7 linked regions of the Homo sapiens genome follow. The protein of the gene in region 4 purifies or fractionates together with the protein of the main gene of each other region. This does not show direct contact. Each region holds a gene or a part of one and is shown on either strand. Other genes may lie near its edges. The genes, in order: NDE1, DIXDC1, ACAD11, FAM124A, LRBA, PALS1 and NBEA.

Region 1 (3,500 bases), on a different chromosome or scaffold from region 4:
ACATGGTAAAACCCCATCTCTGCTAAAAATACAAAAATTAGCTGGGCATGGTGGCACATGCCTGTAATCCCATCTACTCAGGAGGCTGAAACAGAAGAAACTCTTGAACCCGGGAGGTGGAGGTTCCAGTGAGCAGAGATCCTGCCACTGCACTCCAGCCTGGGTGACAGAGCAAGACTCCATCTCAAAAAAAGAAAAGAGTAATAATAATAATAATAATAATAAAAGAAAAGAGCCTCTTAAAACACTGTTATCTTGGCCAGGAAGGTTTAAAAACTTAATCCTCAGGAAAGAAATGAATCTGAGATGCTTTAGGAGGTGCGTCTATTGTGGGGCAGGTTCTAATTACAACGGGCCAATGGGAGGGATCTGGTTTTGGATTTCAAGGACTGAGGAGAAAATAAGCAGAGAACTGGATTTGTATCACAGCCTGCAAAATCTTTCACTCCAACCAAGAGACAAAAACCACAGGAACAGCATTTCAACCAAAAACTCTTACATTTTAAAAGCAATCCTTAGGGAAGAGAGATGCTGGAAGCAAAGAAGGAAGAAGTAACAGCTGCACTTCACTTTATCATAAAACAGCAATCTTTTTTTTTCTTTTTCTTTATTATTATTATACTTTAAGTTTTAGGGTACATGTGCACAATGTGCAGGTTAGTTACATATGTATACATGTGCCATGCTGGTGTGCTGCACCCACTAACTCGTCATCTAGCATTAGGTATATCTCCCAATGCTATCCCTCCCCCCTCCCCCCACCCCACAACAGTCCCCAGAGTGTGATGTTCCCCTTCCTGTGTCCATGTGTTCTCGTTGTTCAATTCCCACCTATGAGTGAGAATATGCGGTGTTTGGTTTTTTGTTCTTGCAATAGTTTACTGAGAATGATGATTTCCAATTTCATCCATGTCCCTACAAAGGACATGAACTCATCATTTTTTATGGCTGCATAGTATTCCATGGTGTATATGTGCCACGTTTTCTTAATCCAGTCTATCATTGCTGGACATTTGGGTTGGTTCCAAGTCTTTGCTATTGTGAATAATGCCGCAATAAACATACGTGTGCATGTGTCTTTATAGAAGCATGATTTATAGTCCTTTGGGTATATACCCAGTAATGCGATGGCTGGGTCAAATGGTATTTCCAGTTCTAGATCCCTGAGGAATCACCACACTGACTTCTACAATGGTTGAACTAGTTTACAGTCCCACCAACAGTGTAAAAGTGTTCCTATTTCTCCACATCCTTAAAAGTATAAGATTTTTGCCTTTGCCATTCAAAAATGTCAGAGAGAGGCCGGGCACGATGGCTCACGCCTGTAATCCCAGCACTTTGGCAGACTGAGGTGGGCAGATTGCTTGAGCCCAGGAGTTTGAGACCAGCACAAGGTGAACCCCGTCTCTACTAAAAATACACAAATCAGCAGGGCGTCACGATGCACGCCTGTAGTCCCAGCACTTTGGGAGGCTGAGGTGGGTGGATTGCTTGAGCCCAGGGGTTCAAGACCAGCCTGGGCAACATGGTGAAACCCTGTCTCTACTAGAAACACAAAAATTAGCCAGGTGTGGTAGAGCGCACCTATAATTCCAGCTACTTGGGTGGCTGAGGCCCAAGAATTGCTTGAACCCAGAGGCAGAGGTTGCAGTGAGCAGAAATTGTACCACTGCACTCCAGCCTGGGCACAAGAGCAAGACTCTGTCTCAAAAAATAAATAAATAAACAACATGAAAACGTCAGAAAGTTCTATTGCAGTACTCTCTGTGGCAGAAAGCAGGCAACATGACTTGCAAGGGTTCTCTTATTTTATCAGCATTAAGTACTGAATTTGACCTTCTGTTTGCTGTGTGCTAGACATTTCAAAAATTGTTTGCAAACATTATCTTCTTTAAGCTGTGTGACTGTAAGAGATGGCTAAACAGGACAACCACTCTGTTTCTTGGAAGCAGAAACACCGTATGCCTTGGCCATCTCTAAATGTGCATGTGAGCAGCAGAGGCAAACTAGATCCAAGTTCAAGGGATCTTTGCATTCAAGTCCAAGGCTTCCCAGGGGTTGCAAACTGACTGACTGCAGATCAGATTCACTTGTTTCATTTGGTCCAGTTTTGTTTTTTTTTTTTTTGTTTTTTTTTTTTTTGAGTCGGAATCTCTTTCTCTGTTGCCCAGGCTGGAGTGCAGTGGTGTGATCTCAGCTCACTGCAACCTCTGCCTCGCAGCTTCAAGCGATTCTCCTACCTCAGCGTCCCTAGTACCTCGGATTACAGGTGCATGCCACCACGACTGGCTAATTTTTTGTATTTTTAGGAGAGACGGGGTTTCGCCACGTTGGCCAGGCTGGTCTCGATCTCCTGACCTCAGGTGATCTGCCCACCTAGGCCTCCCAAAGTGCTGGGATTACAGGTGTGAGCCATTGCACCCGGCCCTCACATAGTGTTTTAAAAGGCACTGTAATAGGCAAGTGTTAATGCCTGGTCTCAGTATATACAACTTTGCACCTGCTATCTTAAAAATGCACCCCACATGCATTTATTTCATCTGTGTGCCACTAACCTGCGTTCTTAATACGCCACCACACCATCATGCCCCAGCAGCTCTGTAGACAAATCTGATGGGATCATGCAAGGAACAATGACAAACTAGGACCCAGTGGTACAAAAAGTATCTATTTTGCACAACAGAGATCTATGCCTCCTTCAAAAATTTGTTTCCGGCCGGGTGTGGTGGCTCATGCCTGTAATCCCAGCACTTTGGGAGGGTGAGGCAGGCAGATCACCTGAGGTCAGCAGATAAGAGACCAGCCTGGGCAACATGGTGAAACCCCATCTCTACCAAAAACACAAAAAAATTAGCCAGGTGTGGTGATGCACACCTGTGGTCCCAGCTACTCAGGAGGCTGAGGTGGGAGGATCACTTGAGCATGGGAGGCGGTGGTTGCAGTGAGCCGAGATCGCCCCACAGCACTCCAGCCTGTGTGACAGAGCGAGAACCCGTCTCAAAAAAAAAAAATTGTTTCCACATGCTTTTTTTTTTTTTGCATGTTTTACATGATTAAAGCTAACAAAAAAGTCTGAAAATACACTCGAGACACACACCTCTGATTTTAAAACTCTGGAAAAAAGCAAAGCAATCTCTTTCAGCTTTCCTCTGAGAGAAGAAACCCAGCACTGCTAGTCAGGAGCAATAAACATACAGAAACCATCGATAATTACTCAACACCCTTCTCCATCCCCACTCCATATCCTTCCCAATCAAAACAAACAGAAGAGCAGGAGGGAAGAGAAAGAAGCTGCCAAATGTCCACACATGCTCCGACAGCCAGGACGCAGGCTTTGCATTTTGCAGGAGTGACATCACTGGGGCAACATCAGTCAAGAGTCAGCAAGCCTGGCTTCTGTCTTTGTGCTTTCCAAGTTTACAATGATCAACCTACAAAAATACTTAGGCAGGCAAGGACCCATGTTCAAAGATGCACACCATCATTCACGAATGTGGAAA
Region 2 (3,500 bases), on a different chromosome or scaffold from region 4:
CCATGGGTGGTTGAAACTGTGGAAAGAAAAACTATGGGTAAGGGAGACTTCTGTACAAAGAACCTGTCCATGAAAGGAAGAAGAAATTCAAGGATATTTTTACTTGTGAACTTTATTTGTACCCAATTAGCCATCAAATTCAATGAACAAATAGCTTTTGCAGGTTCAGTAAAGGGCTGAAAGAGTTAATAGAAAAGAAATACAATAGGGTGTTTACTGGCAGAATTTAGGCCAATAATAACATAAGGTTTTTAAATCTCTAGCCTTGCTCTTAGTTTCTCAGCAACTTCCCCACCCTCATCTCCTCATCTTCTGCTGCTGGAGGGTCTCAGAGTTCTAAACAGGTATCTGGTTTCACTGTAAAACTAATTTCCTTCCTGAGCCATTCATGTCTCCTCCTGAACTGTCTCTCTAGCATACCACAAAAGCTCTCTGCTTTTCTTGTTTGCTTTTCTTGTTGCCAGCAGGAAAACATAGAGTCGCCTCCTTGGCTGTTTCTGCTCTAAGAACAGTAGATACCACATACTTCCCTGGTGAAGCCCCATTGGTGCTTTCGCAACTCTAGCAAATAAGTCCCCTGCAGGAATTCTGTGAGCTTGAGTCTTGGAGGAGATAGAGAACTGAGGCTCGGCTTACAAACCTGTTTGGAAGGAAGGGCAGGTCCCAAAGAAAAACAGGAAGAAGGTTACATTTGGTGGCAAGAAAGCTTTCAAGGTCAAGATTTCCTGCACAAATGAAGATTTTGGATGGAATTGTGTATACTAGAAGACTTTTACCTAAAATCATAGGGTTATTTGGAGTGTCTTGGAGGAAGCTGATGGAGATTATGGGATTGCTAAAGCCTCCTTCCACCGGCCACCTCGTGGTACTATCACTGCTCTCACAACTTTAGAGGGGTCCAGTCTCATCAAGCCAAAATCCTTCTCAGACAGTTTTAACTCTTGTTATGTCTACTGACTGACTTCTTCTGAGGCCTGACTCAGAGGGTGGTTACCATGAAAACCTTCAGTTGTTCTAGACATTTATTACACTGGCATCCTTTTAGCTTCCTTAGAACAAATTAGTCATGAAACTCCAGACTGAGATTAGTTCAACACTGTTACACACGTAGTATGTACCAACTGTCTTGGTCTTTTTTAAAAAATTAGTTCGGTTACAAGTGCCAAAAACCCAACTTGAACTAGCAGGGATAGGAAGTGGACGTTATTGACTCATGGAATCCAAGGAAAGGCAGAAAAACTAAACCATGGAAAGGGCAGGGATGCAGCAGAAACAATGAAATCAAGAACTCTGACACTGGCAGGATCTCTTCCTCTGTTCTCTGCCTCTTGTCTGCTTCTTTCTATGCTGGCTTTATTCCCATTTACTAGAGCTGGTTTTTCCTTCTCAGGTGGGCAGCATGGCCTATGGCAACGTCTAAGTTTTATATCTTACAACTTTGAGAGAGATGAGGGAGGAGGAGGAAGACTGATTCTATTCCTAAATGCCAGTTCAGAAAGTTCCAGGGATTGGCTGGCTTTCACCAATCAACTTTGGCAGACCAATCAAGTGTGACCAGTGGAGGGGGTGATACAATACCAACCTGGTCATAGGACCCACCACTGTGTGCACAGAGGAGGGTTCTTAAAGAAGAGGGAATCATTGTGGGCTGGGCAGCTACCCCAGGAGCTGTTAGCTACACTATCACTGTAAGCCTAGCTGGAATCTGATCATTCCTACTTTGCCTCTCTTGACCAAGATCCAGGGTCATAATCAAAATATAATTCTTTTTTTTTTTAATTGTTATGCGAAAGAGCTTCATTTATTTGTTTAGTTTTCTGACTTTGTGCTGGTGTGTTCAATACTTTTTCTTTTCCTGAATAAGGAAGGCACGCTTGGTTCTGTCACAGACACATTTAGTACACATAGAACAACCACAGGCCTTGCTGACATGGATTTTTTTTTGAGACAGAGTCTTGCTCTGTTGCCCAGGCTGGAGTGCAGTGGCACGATCTCAGCTCCCTGCAACCTCTGCATCCTGGGGTCAAAGGATTCTTGTGCCTCAGCCTCCCAAGTAGCTGGAATTACAGGCATACACCACCAGCCCGGTTAATTTTTTTTTTTTTTTTTTTTGAGATGGAGTCTCGTTCTGTCGCTCAGGCTGAAGTGCAGTGGCACGATCTTGGGTCACTGCAAACTCCGCCTCCTGGGTTCAAGTGATTCTCCTGCCTTAGCCTCCCAAGTAGCTGGGATTATAGGCGCCTGCCACCACGCCCGGCTAATTTTTGTATTTTTTTTTTTTTTTGAGATGGAGTCTTGCTCTTTCGCCTAGGCCGGACTGCAGTGGTGCGATCTCGGCTCACTGCAAGCTCCGCCTCCTGGGTTCCCGCCATTCTCCTGCCTCAGCCTCCCTAGTAGCTGGGACCACAGGCGCCTACCACTGTGCCCGGCTAATTTTTTGTATTTTTAGTAGAGACGGGGTTTCACCGTGTTAGCCAGGATGGTCTCGATCTCCTGACCTCATGATCCGCCCGCCTTGGCCTCCCAAAGTGCTGGGATTACAGGCTAATTTTTGTATTTTTATTAGAAATGGGGCTTTGCCATGTTGGCCAGGCTGGTCTCGAACTCCTGACCTCAAGCTATCTGCCCACCTTGGCCTCCCAAAGTGCTGGGATTACAGGTGTGAGCCACTGCACCTGGTCAGTTTTTTTGTATTTTTAGTAGAGACGGAGTTTTGCCATGCTGGCCAAGCTAGTCTGTAATTGCTGGCCTCAAGTGATCTGCCTACCTCAGCCTCCCAAAGTGCTAGAATTACAGGCATGAGCCACTGCACCCAGCCAACATGTTTTTTTTCCTTTGTTTATTTTGGAGAACCTCTTAAGAACTTTAGGTGTCACAGCAGGAACTCATTGAAGTCGGCCTGGGCACACGCCACATGCAGATTTTGGTGTTTTCCCAACCTTCTTGGTATGAAGGTAAACAGTTCTGTGAACAGGGATTTGGGACAGCCTAATTTTGTTAGAGGCTGTATTGCAGAAAAGCCTACAATGGTATGCCAAATGCTGGACCATTCTGAGTGCCTATGGACACTGTCCCCAGAATAAGCAAGATCTATTTCTCAATATTCCAGATATTTCCATTTTGCTGAGCCTGTTGTATCTTTTTGTCACTGAATAATAGACTTGTAAAATGATAGTGTTAGAAGGAAACAAAATGCAGTTTTTTTTTTCTTTTGGTGTTTATATTTGTTTTGGTTCTTGTTTTCAGCTGCTGTGTGAAGCCCTTAAATTACTTTAGATGGCTGGAGAGTAGGGGTGGGGGCTTGAGGGTGGAGAAACACAGGAAGAGTGAGCTGGGTTTTGGACTCCTGACCCTGGCCTAATCAGAGAAGCACTGCTTTTCCCTATTTTACATATCTGCTTCTTACACAAGTTATAATTTTAAAAAATAATGAGGCCAAAAAAAATGAAGAAATGAAACTACTAGTCCACCTTTCAGAGAGTAACAGCCTCCTGTAAAAG
Region 3 (3,500 bases), on a different chromosome or scaffold from region 4:
CTTTCTCTATGACTTTATAAGAGCTTTTATTGTGGTTATATTATACTATAAATTTATAATATTATAAGTATTATAAATTACTATACTAGCTAGATTTGTGAAACTACTGAAGAGGATGGATGCATTTTTCTCTTACATCATTCTATTTGTTATCTATGCTTTTAACATCCAAAGTAAAGATGAGGCACTTACTTATGCTATAAATGATTACTTTTCTTTTTTAATACAATTGGGAAACTTCTCTGGAGTTACTTTTCAGAATATCTGAACCATTTTTGGGGTAAAAACACAAAGCTATAAAACAACAGCCAGTGAGAAAAGCTGATGGCTCATCAAATTGCATAAATTAGTGCAAATTAATTAGCAATAGCTAATTAGAGTCCTGTTGATGCCTGTTTGTGTTGAGAGTTATTAAAAGCTCAACATAACTTTTAGTGGTTGATCTGGACATTTACTAGTTCGTCTTACTGCTGCTAGGGAACTTATTAGTAAAATTATTTTTGATAGTTTTTCTGAAACCTCAGCTCAACAGAAAGCTTTTAGTTTTTTAAATTATCTTCTTTATAAAGAGATTCATTTTATGTATACTTTTTACACCATTGAATTTTATTAATATGTATGTGTATTGGCATTCGAAACAAACAAAAAATACATACAATCCAACAGAACAAACAGTAGATGAAGAAGGCAGGGAAGAAAATAATAGAATTTGTAATGAAAAGATGAAGCTAGGAGTAAGGTTATTACACATAATTGAATGTGATAGGACATGCATAGTTGTTAGTGTGGGTAGTAAAATTTGCTTTGAATTTTATAGCGGGTAAAATAAAGTGTGAAGCATGGTCAGTCACAATCTTTATAGTGTATGCAGGTCAAAAACAAACCAGCTGCTCAAGAGGGACAAATTTTCTTGGCAATGAGGCTAAAGAAAAATATCACCCATCAATCTGCATACAGGTGATATTGTGTAGCGGACGAAAATGTCTTCAACAATATAAAGAGAACTTTGAGGGGCATGGTGTAATTCCTAGAAAGCAGGCTATGCTGGAAAATGACTGAAAGGACAAAGATGAGTTAGGTAGAAGACAAGACCACATGCTGAGAGTGGGAACCGAGATGGGACAAGAAATGTGAGAGTTTGAGAAGAAGGGAAAAGATTTAGAAAAGCCATTTTTTAAATGTCACAGGTTTTACTAAGAGATGAAGTTACAGCCTAGATAAAATCATGTGGCATAAAAATGTCCCAGATCCAATTAACCTTACTTCACGACTTTATTCTGCAGCAAAAATATGAGGATTCAAGTTTAGGGCTAGAAACTGGTTAAAGTCAAGGGGTGATGGACATCCCCTGTAGGGTTATTAGAAAAAATAAAAAGTAAAATAATAATAATAATGATGATATAAAGTCAGGGTGGGAAGATTCTAGAATAATAAGTAACCTAAGGTCAGGACACTTTATAATTCTTACATTACTTGCATACATCTATAGTCAAAAAATTATTAATGAAATTGATACTAAAGGTAGTTTTTGAGATGACTGATTATGACCATGTGGCTTATGTAGGATAAGAAGTCAAGTGAAGTCATGAAGGGCTTATGGATTCTAAATTAACAGCAATCAAATTTGCAGTGTCTCAGGGAAGATGCAGAGAAATAAAAGAACAGAAGGTAAAGAGGGTGAGGTCAAAAATAAGGGGTTTCAATTTCTAGATCACTGAAGTTGACAAGTTCCAATGGATGTTTCTAATTAAATATATTTTTCAAGTTGAAATGACAATATGCAGATTTTACATTAAACTCCAAGATCTTAAACATTTCTCTACTGGTAAAATTTATATTTGGAAAATCAACATTTTCCAGGAAAACTGGATTTCTTTTCAACATTGCAGTGAGCCTATTGTGCTACTGAAATACTTGCCCAAACATGCTTTAAATACTTTGTAAATAAGTAACAGAAAATAATTTCGTTTTGCCATATCCTGTAGTTTCCTTTACTGGCTTACTCCACACATTCCTGGAAGGTTTGTCATTTAAAATTGTTTATTCTTCTTTCTTAATTGTTGTGTTTTCTGATGACAAAAATTAAACATGCTGTTGTTTTAAAAATAAAAACCAAAAAACATCAAACCCTAAACATTACAGAAATGTACAATTATGTCTCCTATAATTCTATCCCCTACAACCACTGTTTAGGTTTTCGTACATATTATGAAGCATTTACTTATACCCTAATATTTTTCTGAAGAAGCTTGACAAGTAGTCTAAGAAAAGTCAGAGAGAAAAATGAAGGGGAAAAAATGGAAAAATGAGGGTACCTGAAATAAACTGAGCATCATTGATGTGCCAGGTACCAGCTAGTTGCTCCACATTGACTGTTTCATTTTAGCTGCCCAGCAACTCAGAATTTTTTTTTTCAATTTTAAAAGGTACACAATGTCAATTTCCTGGCTTTGATAATGTACCATAGTTGTATAATATCCATTTTGCAGAATTTGGATGATGGATACACAGGACTTCTCTGTACTATAACACTGTTACAACTTTTTTGGGGACTCTAATTATTTCAAAACAAAAAGTTAAAATAAAAATAGAGGCACAGAGAGAGATTGAATAACATGCTTTAAGTTCACACTGCTAGGGAATGAAAGTTAAGCATAAATTTATGAGATGGAAATAGTTGCTAGTGAATAATTAACTAAAATTAATCCCTTCAACATAGATTCATCAGAATCATATAAGCACCTGCAATATAAAGATGAATAAGATACAGTCATTGTTTTAAAGGAACTCCAAGTCTAGTGGGTTCTAATTTGTTATCTACTATAGAGACTCAATATTATGTAGACTCGACTAAAATATTAATTAAATGACACAGATCAAATACAGGCCAGATCCTGCTATGTTTTCAGGCATATGCTTTTATAATTATCTAGATTATAAATTAGCATATTTAATTTTTCTAATCTCAGGGTAGATAATTAACAAGGTTAGAATTCAGAATTCATCAGTGCCACTAGCTCTTCCTGCCCTAAAACATCTTAGCATTCTAAGAAACTAATGAACCCAGAAAATCCTCCTCTCAGAAGCAGGATTCATTCCTACTATACTGTAATCCTAGGCCTCATTGTAGGTGCTCAGTGGAGGATTACAGCTTTCATTTGTTTATACTCTTTATAAAGAATACAGTATGCACATTTACATTGAGCAAGGTTATATTAATCTCATGTAATTCTTTTGAAGCCTCAAGAAGCTTTTGGAATTCTCTATTCTCAGAGTTTATAATAAACAAATAATAAATTCTTCATGAGATAGGGCTAAAAACCCCAAAGAAGTATAAATGAACCAGAAAAAACAGCAAGAACATGGATAAGCTAAATATTGTAACTAGTAGATGAAAACTTATTTGAAGAAAACAGCATCATGCATGTAAAATTCCCAAATCCTTTTAAGCAGTAAACCAGATACCACTTGGGATTAGAACCAGTCTCAAAGGTAGGCAG
Region 4 (3,500 bases):
GCTAGTGAGATAGGGCAAAACAATTTAATATTTACTGATTTAAACAATCAGGGCCTTTATATTAAGACAATTACTTTTGTTAATTTAAAATAAGTATTCAATCAATCTGAATGGCTTTGGTCATTTATGTAGTAATCTTAATCACTCTCAATTCTTTCTAGTTATGAGGCATAATTTCTCATGAGTAAATTTACCTGTACTTTAATATTAAATATAAGCACCTTTTTAATAACCAGAGTGTCTTTGTAAACATATTCCTGATCATTTTCTGCTGCATATAATAACCACTTATAAGCCAGGAATTACAAATACAGGATGATGGATTGATAAAAATGTCTGTATTCTTTTAGCCACATTTAAGTGGAAAAGTAATAGCTAAATTCCCTAATTACAACCTACATCGGTTATACATACTGATATATATGTATATCAATGTGCATACGTATTGGTACATATGTATTGGCATGTATAACCAATGTAGGTTATAATTAGGGAATTTAGCTATCACTTTTCCACTTTAGCTATAACTGTTCCAACTGTTAACACACTTCGCAGGATTTTGCCAGAGATAGATGTTCCCTCCATTGGAGAGGGAAGGATATTTGCCTGCAGATGCAGACATGCAAGGGAAGAGATTTTGCAAGAGATGAGCTGGAGCAACTGCAGGGATCCAGGAATTGTGCTCTGAGCTTTCTGTTTGCCTGAGGGTAGCAGGTATCTGATAGATGTTTGTTCAATGAAAGCGCTACCTCAGATTCTTCAGAGATGATGCTCCTAGAAGCATCCACAAGCAGCTGATAAAGCCTGGGTTACATCCTTCAGGCTGAATTTCTGTATGATCAGATTCTCCAGGAAAAGCCTCCACTTCCAGAGTTACAGCATCCTGTACCACATTCTTTGGCAAAGATGCTTTGGTGATTCTTACCTACTATAAAACCATGTACACACATGGCCTCTAGGGTACTGACCTCTCCGGGGACCGTTAGACAATGCTGAAGGATGTTTAAAAGATACTTACTGCTCGTGGAGGACAGGTGGCTGTAGTCGGACCTGAAACACAAGACCTCAGCGTTAGTAGAATTCTTTATCCAAATGATTTATTCAAGCCAGAATTTTAAACAGTCAGTGGTAAGTAGCATTTAGCTGGTAAAGAAATGTCACCAATTAAAAACTGCAGTGCTAAGGCTCATTTTATGCAAAATAAAGTTATGTCTGAATTTGAAAGAAAACTTTAAAGGAACTTTAGAATTCTGGGGGCTCTCATGTGAGTTCTGCAAATTCCTCTGATGAGGTTTGGAAGAAGCCATCTAAAGGTTTAGCAAAAATATTGAATGGTTATTTCTCTGGGGAGAAGCCCCAAAGTTTTCAACAGATTCACCACTCACAGATTCACTCCAAAGGTTACTGCAAATGAGCACCCTTCAAATATTCGCACAACACCATGGGGAAATGTTCTTTGCTAACATAAGCAGAGGATCCCAGCGCGAGGAGAGAGGGAACCTCAGCTGCGAAGGTTTCCACATTCAAGGTGGGGCTGACCACCAGGAAACAAAGGCACAATGATATTTCCACTGATTTCAGTTCCATCTGAGAAGAAAGCCTGCTGGATATTAGAGTAACAGGATGTGAGCTGTGATCGGGAAAGGGAAAAGGCAGGCTAAGGCTGGGGTGAAATCGCCCTTTCAGTTTCTATGCTGAGAAATCAGCTGCTGGCATTCAGCCTCCGTAAGAGTGGGGCTCTGGCCAAGGATCTGCTTAATCTCTAGTAAGTTTCTGCCCTACTTCTGTAGCTGTTAAGACTTTCCTCTCTGGCAACAAATTTGATATGGAAGCTACTTATTTTCTTCCCCTAGTGTCCCAAAGTCATTCTCAGTAGGAAATTAATCACTTTAGCACGTAGGGATTTATTCTGCCATGGAAGTTAGGGGACGAAGTTATGCAAATAAACTGCTTAATTATGTTTAATTTTATAGATATACATTCCTTTTATCTCCTTAGTCTCCTGCTGCCTTTCCTGAATCATCCAATTTTCACTCCATTGAACTTCTTGCCACATTTAAAAAAGTACATGCAAAACTTTTTAAAAAAATCATAAGCAGCATGCCTCTTACTGATTAAAATAACCTACATCACTCAAAATGCTGCATTGATTTATTGGTCGAGGAACAAAATGGAAGAAAACAACATGTGGTTTTCACTTTCACAAATGAAATACTTTAGTAGTCATGGAATCAATGAATTTTAAAACTGGAAAGAATAACAACTACCAACATTTGCATATCCCTTTATATATTACAAACTGCATTCATATATATATATATAATTCAATATTTTATTGACTAGGAAATTAAAGTGATACTATCTGTACAGAGGCCAGGAGGTGAGCAATGATTAGTGACTGAAGTTGAGTGTGCACGGTGGGTGGAGAGGAAGGACTCCGAAGGCAGAAGGGATTGACTGGCTAGCACATGGTGACATACTAGCTAAGGGAGACAACAGAGAGGGGAGGGTCAAGGATTAGCAACATTCTGAAGCCCAGGATTTGTAACCCAGTACTGGTGCATTAAATTCTTTCTGGAACCATTCAGGACATAAACTTTAGAACAATACTTGGAAATGTAATTATATATAAACTTAGTGACTGCTCAGCAAATATCCACTGTGGTAGATGCAACAGGAAAACAACTTGATTACAATAAAATCATCTTAAGATGGACAGACTTTAAAGAAATGTCATGACTATTCAAATACAACACACAATAAGAATGGCGATATTTCTATTTCTTTTATTCTTTAAAATGTGTATTTTCAGCTAGGATTTTCCAAATTCTCTTGAAGCAGATGGGATTCACATATGCATACATTTTAAAGATCTGCATACAGATGGATATGTATGTAGAATGAAATTTACACTTGAAACATAGTTCAAGAATCTTAAAGTGCAACAGTATTTTAGTGTCTTGGGACAGGTGCTGGCATAACTGATGCCCCTCTATGAGTCCCTCCACGTTTCTAGAGACTAAGGGCACCACCGGGTTGGGCCCGCCGAATGGTCAGCCTTCTGACAATCACGCTGATCCTGCTGCAGTTCCCTCCACATACAGCAGCCAATCTTTGCAAAGGATAAATCTGATCATGTCTCTCTCTGGATGAAATTCAAGCTCGCTAGTGTAAAACACAAACCCCTCTCTCCGTGACGGATGGCCCAGCTCTGCTGTCCAACTTTCACCCGGGTCCACCGTCACAACGGAAACACACAGAAAGTCACCTACAGCCTCCCACTGCTCTCCAGCCTCTGATCCTCAGTATATGCAATTTGTACACAGTTGCCATAATGATGGAGACACAATTTTGAATTGCTCTTTTCACTTGATACCATCATAACATGCTGCTACACATTTCCTGTAATTATCATTTTAAATTAATACACTATAATTTATTCAACCCTTTTGTTGGCTAAATGATCGCTCCTGGTTGTTCACCTTTACAAAACACACGGC
Region 5 (3,500 bases), on a different chromosome or scaffold from region 4:
CAACGTGGTGAAACGCCATCTCTACCAAAAATACAAAAATTAGCCGGGCTTGCTGGTGCATCCCTGTAATACCAGTTACTCAGGAGGCTGAGATAGAATTGCTTGAACCCGGGAGGCGGAGGTTGCAGTGAGCCAAGATCACGCCACTGCACTCCAGCCTGGGTGGCAGAGTGAGACTCCATCTCAAAAAAAAAAAAAAAAAAAATATATATATATATATATATATATATATATATATATATAAAATGGTATTTTTTTTTCTTATACAGACAAGGTCTTACTATGTTGCACAGGCTGGTGTTGAACTTCTGACCTCAAACTTCTGACCTCCCACCTCAGCCTCCCAAACTGCTGGGATTATAGGCATGAGCCACTGTGCCCAGCTCAAATTTTCAAATATAGAGTACAACTGTTTATATAGAATTTACATTCTATTAGGTATTCTAAGTAATCTAGAGATGATTTAAAGTATATGGGAGAAAGCCGGGCATGGTGGCTCAAACTTGTAATCCCAGCATTTTCAGGAAGCCAAGGCAGGCAGATCACTTGAGGCCAGGAGTTTGAGACCAGCCTGGCCAACATGGTGAAACCCCGTCTCTACTAAAAATACAATAATTAGCTGGGTGTGGTGGCACACGCCTGTAATCCCAGCTACTCAGGAGGCTGAGGCAGGAGAATTGCTTGAACCCAGGAAGTGGAGGTTACACTGAGCCAAGATCGCGCCACTGCACTCCAGCCTGGTGAGGGAGCAAGACTCTGTCTCAAAAAAAAAAAAAAAAACTAGCGGGTTTTGGTGGCATACGCCTCTAAGTCCTAGCTACTCAGGAGACTGAGGCAGGAGAGCAGCTTAAGCCCAGGAATTTGAGGCTACAGTGAGCTATGATCAAGCCACTGTACTCAAGCCTGGGCAACAGAGCAAGGCGCGGTGGCTCACGCCTGTAATCCCAGCACTTTGAGAGGCCAGGGCGGGTGGATCACGAGGTCAGGAGATCCAGGCCATCCTGGCTAACACGGTTAAACCCTGTCTCTACTAAAAATACAAAAAATTAGCTGGGCGTGGTGGCACGTGCCTGTAGTCCCAGCTACTTGGGAGGCTGAGGCAGGAGAATGGCGTGAACCTGGGAGGCGGACCTTGCAGTGAGCCGAGATCGCGCCACTGCACTCCAGCATGGGGGACAGAGTGAGGCTCCATCTCAAAAAAATAAATAAATAAATAAATAAATAAATAAAAATTTTAAAGAGATGATTTAAAGTATACGGAAGATACATGTAAGTTATATGCAAATACTATACCATTTTATATAAGAGACTGGAGCTTCTGAAAATTGTGGTATCCACTAGGGGTTCTGGAACCAATCCCCCACATATCAAGGGGTGACTGTAATTACTTAACAAAAATTTTTTAAAAAATCATGAAAGTATGTATTTGTCACCAGCTCATGGGAATCACTATTCTTGAATTAGGTAGCACTAAATACCTTTAAATACCTGATGGAAGCCTTAAACTCAGCAGCAAGTTCCTGAAAACATGCCAACATATATTAATTATTCTGGGTCTAAAAGTTTGACAAATTACTTTAAAATACAGATGAAAACAAAATAAAATGTTTTAAACTGCAACAAGAAAAATGTACAAGTTGACCAGAAGTTTGAAACACTTGACTACATTGGTGCACTGTTAATCAAAATTTATCTGCAAAACAGATTTGCAAAAGAAATTATAAACAGGGTAGTAAATTTCAAAGTAATTTATAACAGACTAAGGTCAAGCTACATTAGCAAAGTTGGAAGGTAGCACTTAAGAAAAAACTCTGGGCCAGGCACGGTGGCTCACACCTGTAATCCCAGCACTTTGGGAAGGCCAAGGCAGGCAGATCACCTGAGGTCGGGAGTTCAAGACCAGCCTGGCCAACATGGTGAAACCTAATTTCTACTAAAAATACAAAAAAATTAGCCGGGCATGGTGGTGCGTGCCTGTAGATCCAGCTACTGGGGAGGCTGAGGCACAAGAATTGCTTGAATCCGAGCAGCAGAGGTTGCAGTGAGCTGAGATCGCACCACTGCACTCCAACCTGGGTGACAGAGTGAGACTCCCTCTCAATTAAAAAAAAAAAAAAAAAAGGCCGGGCACAGTGGTTCACGCCTGTAATCCCAGCACTTTGGGAGGCTGAGGCAGGCGGATCACGAGGTCAGGAGATCGAGACCATCCTGGCTGACACGGTGAAACCCCGTCTCTACTAAAAATACAAAAAATTAGCTGGGCGTGGTGGCGGGCACCTGTAGTCCCAGCTACTTGGGAGGCTGACGCCGGAGAATGGCATGAACCCAGGAGGCGGAGCTTGCAGTGAGCTGAGATCGCACCATTGCACTCCAGCCTAGGCAACAGAGCAAGACTCTGTCTCAAAAAAAAAAAAGAGAAAAAACTCTGGAAAGTTATATGGCTCTACCATGTACTATTTGGACACCTCTGGAGGAGAGGAACTTGTTCAATTTTAACAGTATAAACTTTATTGTTTAAGTAGCTAATATTTAGGCCAGGCGTGGTGGCTTAAGCCTGTAATTCCAGCACTTCAGGAGGCTGAACGGGTGGATCACCTGAGGTCAAGATTTTGAGACCAGCCTGGCCAACATGGTGAAACCCCGCCTCTACCAAAAATACAAAAATTAGTCGGGCCTCATGGCGCACGCCTGTGGTCCCAGCTACTTGGGAGTCTGAGGCAGGAGAATCACTTGAACTCAGGAGGCAGAGGTTGCAGGGAGGCAAGGTTGCACCACTGCACTCCAGCCTGGGCAACAGACTGAGACTCTATCTCAAAAAAAAAAAAAAAAAAAAAGACTAACTATCAATTAGGAAATATTTACGTGTAGCAGTACTAACAACATTGAGATGGACTAATTTACAGAATCCCAATACTTTCGTTCTAATTTTTTTTTTCAGGGTGTTGCTCTGCATGATTGTAGCTCACTGTAGCCTCGAACTCCTGGGCTCAAGGGATCCTCCCACCTCATCCTCCCAAGTAGCTGGGACCACAGGTATATGCCACCATGCCCAGCTAATTTTTTATTTAATTTTTTTTTTTGTAGAGACAGGGTCTCACTATAGTGCCCAGGCTGGTCTCAAACTCTTGGCCTCAAGTGAACCTCCCAAAGCTCTGGGATTACAAGCATGAGCCACTGTGCGCAGCTGCTTCCAAAGATTTTCTAGAGTGGCCAAAACCCCAGATAATCCATGAAAGAGCATGAAAAGTATTTTAAGGGACAATGGAAGGGGAGAAACTGCTACCTAATATTCTCAGCAACTTTTCCTGCCCTACCTGACAAGCGAATGATATTGAAGAGGAGGGTAACTAACTGAACAGACTCTTCTCTCTCCTTCTATCCAGGCACCTACTATCCTGCAAATACGCAGCTTTGAAGGACTTAACCAATGACCTTAAAATCTATACCAGGTCTACAGTTCTAGGAAGCGTATAAGCAAATGCTGCTATAGAATTTGGATT
Region 6 (3,500 bases), on a different chromosome or scaffold from region 4:
ATTCTGGAATGTTGTACATCTGAATATGGCACACAGAATCCTTTGTTCCCAGCAGGGAATCTACTTCACCACTGTAACTGAACACACTGACATTTTTGCTAAAACTTATGTCTACCGTAAGCTCAAGATTATTGGAAGAACATTCTAGGACTCCACAGAGAACTGAAACTTTGTGGTATTGGAGTTGAAATGAAAATGATAAAGCCCGAATCCACCTAGTTTTTATCAAATTTAAGGCATTGTTATTCCATTTTGTGCCAAAATGGCTTATATCACTTATTTAGTACTTCATGTCTGAAGTTCTCTTTCAAATTACAATCCACGACTAAGATGAAACAAAATGTTTTAGCTCAAAATTTTTAGCTGAACTAGGCAAAACTGACAATAAGTTCATACTGCTAGATAGCCACTCTCAAGCCTTCATACTAGCAGAACAGATTCAGAGATTCAGAATGCAACTAGATAACCGGTTGGTTACATTTTGTAACGCCATCATTTTCTTAGCACAATTTTATAGAGTTAAAATTGAAAATCTGTTTTACTTCAGCACTTCTATCATTGAGTAATAAAGCACTATTAGAAATACCAATACCAGCGCAGGGGCTCCCCCGCCTGTAATCTCAGCACTTTGGGAGGCCAAGGTAGGTGGATCACATGGGGCCGGGAGCTTGAGACCAGCCTGGCCAACAGGGCAAAACCCCGTCTCTATTAAAAATACAAAAAATAGCCAGGCGTGATGGTGCACATCTGTAATCCCAGCTACTTGGGAGGCTGAGGCATGAGAATCACTTAAACCCAGGAAGCAGAGGTTGCAGTGAACCAAGATTGTGCCACTGCACTCCAGCCTGGGCGACAGAGTGAGACTCTGTCTCAAAAAAAAGAAAGAAATATCACAGGAGAAAAAAACTTAAGTAGAATAAATACAATCAGATACACCATCCTCTACACCAAAAACTGTGGAATACACATCCTAACAGGTGTGCACAGAACATTCACCAAGAAAGAACAGATGTTGGGCCATAAAATAAGGCTCAACAAATTTGAAAAGACTGACATCTTTCAGGGTCTGACCACCTGGAATTATAAATCAGTTAAAATCTTTTTCACATCTCCAAATAGGTGGAAACTATATAACATACTTCTAAATAACTCATGTGTTAAAGAGAAAAACAAGGAAGCGGGGTGCCGGGGGCTCAGGCCCATAATCCCAGCACTTTGGAAGGCTGAGGCAGGTGGATCACCTGAGGTCGGGAGTTTGGGACCAGCCTGACCAACATGGAGAAACCCCATCTCTACTAAAAATACAAAATTAGCTGGGCGTGGTGGTGCATGCCTATAATCCCAGCTACTCGGGAGGCTGAGGCAAGAGAATTGCTTGAACCCGGGAGGCAGAGGTTGCAGTGAGCAGAGATAGTGCCACTGCACTCCAGCCTGGGCAACAAGAGCGAAACCCCATCTCAAAAAAAAAAAAAAAAAAAATGAAGGGAAATTAGAAAATACTTCTAACAAAATGGTAACAAAAATACAATGCCAAAACTTACGGGATGCAACTAAAGAACTGTTTCGAGGGAAATTTATAATTTCAAATGCCTACATTTGAAAAGAAGAGTTTAAAAATTAAGCATTCATCTTGAGAAACTAAAGCAAGTGCAAATTATAGTCAAAGAAAGCATAAAAAGAAATGAATTAAATAGAAAAGAGACAATAAAGACAAATGCCCTCCAACTTATTTCTTTTGCTAAAGTGTCTGATTATTCCTTTTGATAATAATAATAATAATTATTATTATTATTATTTATTTCCTGGTTCCAGATTGTGTCTTTATTCCTCTTTCTGACAGACAGCAGAGCATTTGTCTGGCATATATTCTCTCTTACCACAATATAGATGATTTTCTGTGACTTTAACAATACATACAAGAAAAAAATCACATCTTTATGCCAATACCATTCTTTCACAATACTAGAAGAACAGATTCAGAGTACAATTACATAACTGGTTGGTTACATTTTGCATCCAGTGAGTAACACCATCATCTTCTTAGTTTCTATATCTATTTATTTATTTATTTATTTATTTATTTATTTATTTATTTATTTTTGAGACCAAGTCTTGCTGTGTTGCCCAGGCTGGAGTGCAGTAGCACGAACTCGGCCTCTTCAGTAGCCAGTACCACAGGCGTGCACCACCATGCCTGGCTAATGTTTTTTGTATTTTTAGTAGAGACAGGATTTCACTATGTTGCCCAGGCTGGTCTCGAACTCCTGGCCTCAAGTGATGCGTCCGCCGTATCTCAAAATAATAAGAGCTATTTATGACAAACCCACAGCCAATATCATACTGAATGGACAAAAACTGGAAGCATTCCCTTTGAAAACTGGCGCAAGACAGGGATGCCCTCTCTCACCACTCCTATTCAACACAGTGTTGGAAGTTCTGGCCAGGGCAATCAGGCAGGAGAAAGAAATAAAGGGTATTCAATTAGGAAAAGAGGAAGTCGAATTATCCCTGTTTGCAGATGACATGATTGTACATGTAGAAAACTCCATCGTCTCAGCCCAAAATCTCCTTAAGCTGATAAGCAACTTCAGCAAAGTCTCAGGATACAAAATCAATGTGCAGAAATCACAAGCATTCCTATACATCAATAACAGACAAAGAGAGAGCCAAATCATGAGTGAACTCCCATTCACAATTGCTACAAAGAGAATAAAATACCTAGGAATCCAACTTACAAGGGATGTGAAGGACCTCTTCAAGGAGAACTACAAACCACTGCTCAACCAAGTAAAAGAGGACCAAACAAATGGAAGAACATTCCATGCTCATGGATGGGAAGAATCAATATTGTGAAAATGGCCATACTGCCCAAGGTAATTTATAGATTCAATGCCATCCCCATCAAGCTACCAATGACTTTCTTCACAGAATTGGAAAAAACTACTTTAAAGTTCATATGGAACCAAAAAAGAGCCTGCATTGCCAAGACAACCCTAAGCCAAAAGAATAAAGCTGAAGGCATCACCCTATCCAACTTCAAACTATACTACAAGGCTACAGTAACCAAAACAGCATGCTACTGGTACCAAAACAGAGATACAGACCAATGGAACAGAACAGAGCCCTCAGAAATAATACCACACATCTACAACCATCTGATCTTTGACAAACCTGACAAAAAGAAGAAATGGGGAAAGGATGCCCTATTTAATAAATGGTGCTGGGAAAACTGGCTAGCCATATGTAGAAAGCTGAAACTGGATCCCTTCCTTACACCTTATACAAAAGTTAATTCAAGATGGATTAAAGACTTAAATGTTAGACCTAAAACCAGAAAAACCCTAGAAGAAAACCTAGGCAATACCATTCAGGACATAGGCATGGGCAAGGACTTCATGACTAAAACACCAAAAGCAATGGCAACAAAACTCAAAATTGACAAATGGGATCTAATTAAAGAGCTTCTGCACAGCAAAAGAAACTACCATCAGAGTGAATAG
Region 7 (3,500 bases), about 16 Mb from region 4:
CTCAGTAGTTCCATTGACAAAGATAACACAGGTGACAATTTAAACAGCTGCTCTGTAAAACGGAACTGCTAGAGGACCACAAAGTTCTCACTGCCTTCCACTCCATTTCAAAATCTAAGGTCTGTTTCCTACAATGTGTCATTTCCAGATACTAATGTCTATGTTACTGGGGATTCCTTCTATTTACAAGTGACAAAAAACCCAACTTACACTGATTTGAAATAAATAACAATAGTAAATTTTAAAGGAGATAATTTAATGGTTAGAAGATAATCACCACAGACATAAAGAACTCTAGGTTCTCCAACAGAATCATGAGGTTGTTTGCTTTACACCTGATCAAATTCTAAGACAGGGACCTACAACTCTTAAGAATTTACACATTCAGCATCCCCATCAGAAAGCCTTCCAGCACAATTCCTGGAACCTACTCTGGCTCGCTACCCTTGGGTTAAATGTTTGTCCCTGAACCAATCACCACAATTCTTGCCACACCTAGGTTAGATGTCTGACCCTCAAGGCAGGCAGTGGGGTAGACCCACCTAAACCAGCTGAACTACAAATGGGGAATAAGTGAGTCATCAAAGGAAAACTGAGGTACCACTACAAAGAGGTGACATGTACGCCAGACACACAAAAACAAGAGATGTCCACTATTCTTGGCAATATGACAAATGCTAACAATATTTTCTACAATTTCTCTTCAATGCATTACGTATTTTCTTTGTTAACAACATGACCTTGTTATGTGATTATATTTGATTATACATAAAAGTTTACTGAAAAGTTTTTACCAGATTCGAACTTACTAACAGATGCCAGTTCAAAATAACATCTACATATGCAGTAATGCCTACACAGTCAGGTAATATCATACACATTGAACACATATTTCTAGTTTGAGGAATAAGAAATACATAAAGTTTATATGAGTTGACTTTATATATGAGTTTATTTCAGGATCCTAAGTCTGGACCGTAATGTTGAACATAACTTCAGAAACTGACCATAATCATTACTGCCTAATACAGTGTCCTGCACACTACAAACGCACTTAACTTATCCAAGGCCTAGAAATACAAAAAATAAATATACATAAAATCAATTCCTGCCCTCATGGAGTTCACAGCCTAGGAAGGGAAACACACATAAATAACTGCAATGCTACAGGGTGATATGTGATGCCAAAGAGATATGCTGACATTGTATAAAGACAAGAAATGGAAAACCTGGAACTAATGCATAACAATATGTTCAGTATATAGTTAAAAAAAAAATGCAGGTGACTGAATTTTATAATACAGCTATACCAGTGACACAAAACGGGCACTGGGTCTGTTAGACCCAATAAATTATTTCACACTGTTTGGGAAAAGTATAGCAAAAGAATAAAGAACCTTGAGATATTTTTAATTAGCAGCATAGTATTTACCAAAAAGCAGCTAGCAATACACAAAACATTTATTTAAAATTAATATAACTTGATCGTTGACTGACCACAGAATATTTGCTGCCTTAGTGTCATTATGTGACTAAATTAATATTTCTAAGGAAAATCTCAAAACTCCTTAAGATATTGAAACCTCGAGCATTTACATATGAATCCTGAATTTTATTTTCCATACCCAATCATGAGAATAAAATACAACTCAAATTAATATGAAAAGGCTTATATATCAACATAAATTAAAATGCAGGAAATTATTTTAATATAAATGTGGTTTTATTAGTATTAAGGACCTCCATGATTCTAAGATGCAACTGTATATTTTTTAAATAAATATAATTCAAATGCAGAAGACACCTTGTTTGTAAAATTCTAAATATCTTTAAAATGAAAATTATGACTATCAAGCTGCAAATTTAAAAAAACTCTAAGGAAGAAGAGTTACTGCCATATTCAAGTACAAAAAAAAAAAAAACCTTAAAGTTACCCTTTTAACAAAAATACCATGATCCATAAGCCAAGATGAGAGAAATTTGGTAAACCACAAATCCCTTCAAAGCATCTTATTAGGCTTCCAGTTCAGCCAACAGCATGCCACTTAGAATGTAAAAAAAAAAAAAAATCAGAGGAAATATCATTTTCTACAACTGGACACACTGATATAACTCACTGTAACTCATGAAAAAAAACTACAAATCCATGAAAAAATTTCATGAAAAAATTTCATGAATTCAGTTATTCATAAAAAATTTGTCTATAATTAAATTCCATAATTATAATCATAGAATTATACTATACACATAAGAAAGCCATTCCAAAAAAATTATGAATTCTTTCACTAAGTAAATATTAATCCTCTATTATAAACATATTTTTCTAGAAATTTATGTTTATAAAAGAAACTTCCATGTTATAAGCAACAATAACACGATACTTACATAGCTTTTACTTCAAATATGGATAAAGCTTATATAAACATATGTTAAGTGTGTTTACAAAAGAAGTAATAGATTAGGTAGTACGCCAGTTTTACAACTGAAAACAATCAACAAAATCTCTTCTCTGTAGTTAAATTCTCTTATATTGCCACTTTAAATAATTCCTCCAGAAGCCAAACTTTGTTAACGATCAGTTTCTTTCATTAGTAGAGCTACAATGCAAAATCCTTGACAATGCACTCTGACTGTAACTTTATTCACAAACTAATTTACCTACCTTCCTAACATTATCCATTCCATATTTCACTGTTTTAAGTCAACTATAACATCATTATACAAAATACATACATCTCTAATAAAAATGACTAATTTTATATCATATCACATTGGTGATTCCTCACCAAACTCCCACAATCCACCTAGTAGTAAAAATAGGTCTCTAGACCTTTGGGAAACAAAGCAGAAAAATTACAGCCACCGCTCTGTTGAAGAAGTCCTACACTTTAGTGCATGCTTAAAACTTCACTCTGCCCAGCTTTTAATTCTTTGGCCAAGGCATGTGAGAAACAGCACCTAAAAACCAAGTATTTATGAGTATCCTTACATAGGAAGAAAAAATAAACAGGAAAAAGAAAGAAAAATATACTGACAAAGGCGACTGAGACAAAGGTATTGTTTAAGGTAGAAACTCCTCTTTTTTTTGAAGTTTCATTAGTTCTCCTTTCTTTTCTGTCATTCAGGGCACAGTAATAGGTATTTCACTATTTCACCTTACATTTTTATTTAATGTGTTAAACTAAAACTGAAAATTTTAAAAAATCATTTTAGATTTAATATTAAAGGTTTCCAAACTCTAACGAGTCACTGAGTGTCCTATATGAATTTTATTGGTTTACTTACTAAATAAATAGAATTAAGTTTGATAATCAGTTTTTTAAATGCCCATGACTTCCACATATTTTTGAGAATCCACTTAAATTTTCATATGACATTTTCATGAGTGTATTGGACAATAAAGCCCTAAATCTACAGTTCAAGAAAATTACACTTCAAATGACTAATTTATACTCCACAATTAATATAATTAACAACTTAGTAATAAACAGCTCCTTTTG

Evidence for each region.
Region 1: the proteins of FAM124A (region 4) and NDE1 purify together in Homo sapiens (affinity purification with mass spectrometry; one large-scale study listed by BioGRID and IntAct). This does not show direct contact.
Region 2: the proteins of FAM124A (region 4) and DIXDC1 purify together in Homo sapiens (affinity purification with mass spectrometry; one large-scale study listed by BioGRID and IntAct). This does not show direct contact.
Region 3: the proteins of FAM124A (region 4) and ACAD11 purify together in Homo sapiens (affinity purification with mass spectrometry; one large-scale study listed by BioGRID and IntAct). This does not show direct contact.
Region 5: the proteins of FAM124A (region 4) and LRBA purify together in Homo sapiens (affinity purification with mass spectrometry; one large-scale study listed by BioGRID and IntAct). This does not show direct contact.
Region 6: the proteins of FAM124A (region 4) and PALS1 purify together in Homo sapiens (co-immunoprecipitation; 2 studies listed by BioGRID and IntAct, with this or other methods). This does not show direct contact.
Region 7: the proteins of FAM124A (region 4) and NBEA purify together in Homo sapiens (affinity purification with mass spectrometry; one large-scale study listed by BioGRID and IntAct). This does not show direct contact.

Annotation. Positions count from the first base shown.
Region 1 is NC_000016.10:15,653,245-15,656,744, reverse strand, and holds part of NDE1 (nuclear distribution protein nudE homolog 1), read right to left. Parts: intron 1-3,500. UniProt on the Homo sapiens protein: Required for centrosome duplication and formation and function of the mitotic spindle. Essential for the development of the cerebral cortex.
Region 2 is NC_000011.10:111,943,843-111,947,342, forward strand, and holds part of DIXDC1 (dixin), read left to right. Parts: intron 1-3,500. UniProt on the Homo sapiens protein: Positive effector of the Wnt signaling pathway; activates WNT3A signaling via DVL2. Regulates JNK activation by AXIN1 and DVL2.
Region 3 is NC_000003.12:132,635,810-132,639,309, forward strand, and holds part of ACAD11 (acyl-CoA dehydrogenase family member 11), read right to left. Parts: intron 1-3,500. UniProt on the Homo sapiens protein: Acyl-CoA dehydrogenase, that exhibits maximal activity towards saturated C22-CoA.
Region 4 is NC_000013.11:51,228,898-51,232,397, reverse strand, and holds part of FAM124A (protein FAM124A), read right to left. Parts: intron 1,051-3,500; coding exon 1,019-1,050; intron 1-1,018.
Region 5 is NC_000004.12:151,008,785-151,012,284, forward strand, and holds part of LRBA (lipopolysaccharide-responsive and beige-like anchor protein), read right to left. Parts: intron 1-3,500. UniProt on the Homo sapiens protein: Involved in coupling signal transduction and vesicle trafficking to enable polarized secretion and/or membrane deposition of immune effector molecules. Involved in phagophore growth during mitophagy by regulating ATG9A trafficking to mitochondria.
Region 6 is NC_000014.9:67,328,435-67,331,934, reverse strand, and holds part of PALS1 (protein PALS1), read right to left. Parts: intron 1-3,500. UniProt on the Homo sapiens protein: Plays a role in tight junction biogenesis and in the establishment of cell polarity in epithelial cells.
Region 7 is NC_000013.11:34,945,270-34,948,769, reverse strand, and holds part of NBEA (neurobeachin), read right to left. Parts: intron 1-3,500. UniProt on the Homo sapiens protein: Binds to type II regulatory subunits of protein kinase A and anchors/targets them to the membrane. May anchor the kinase to cytoskeletal and/or organelle-associated proteins.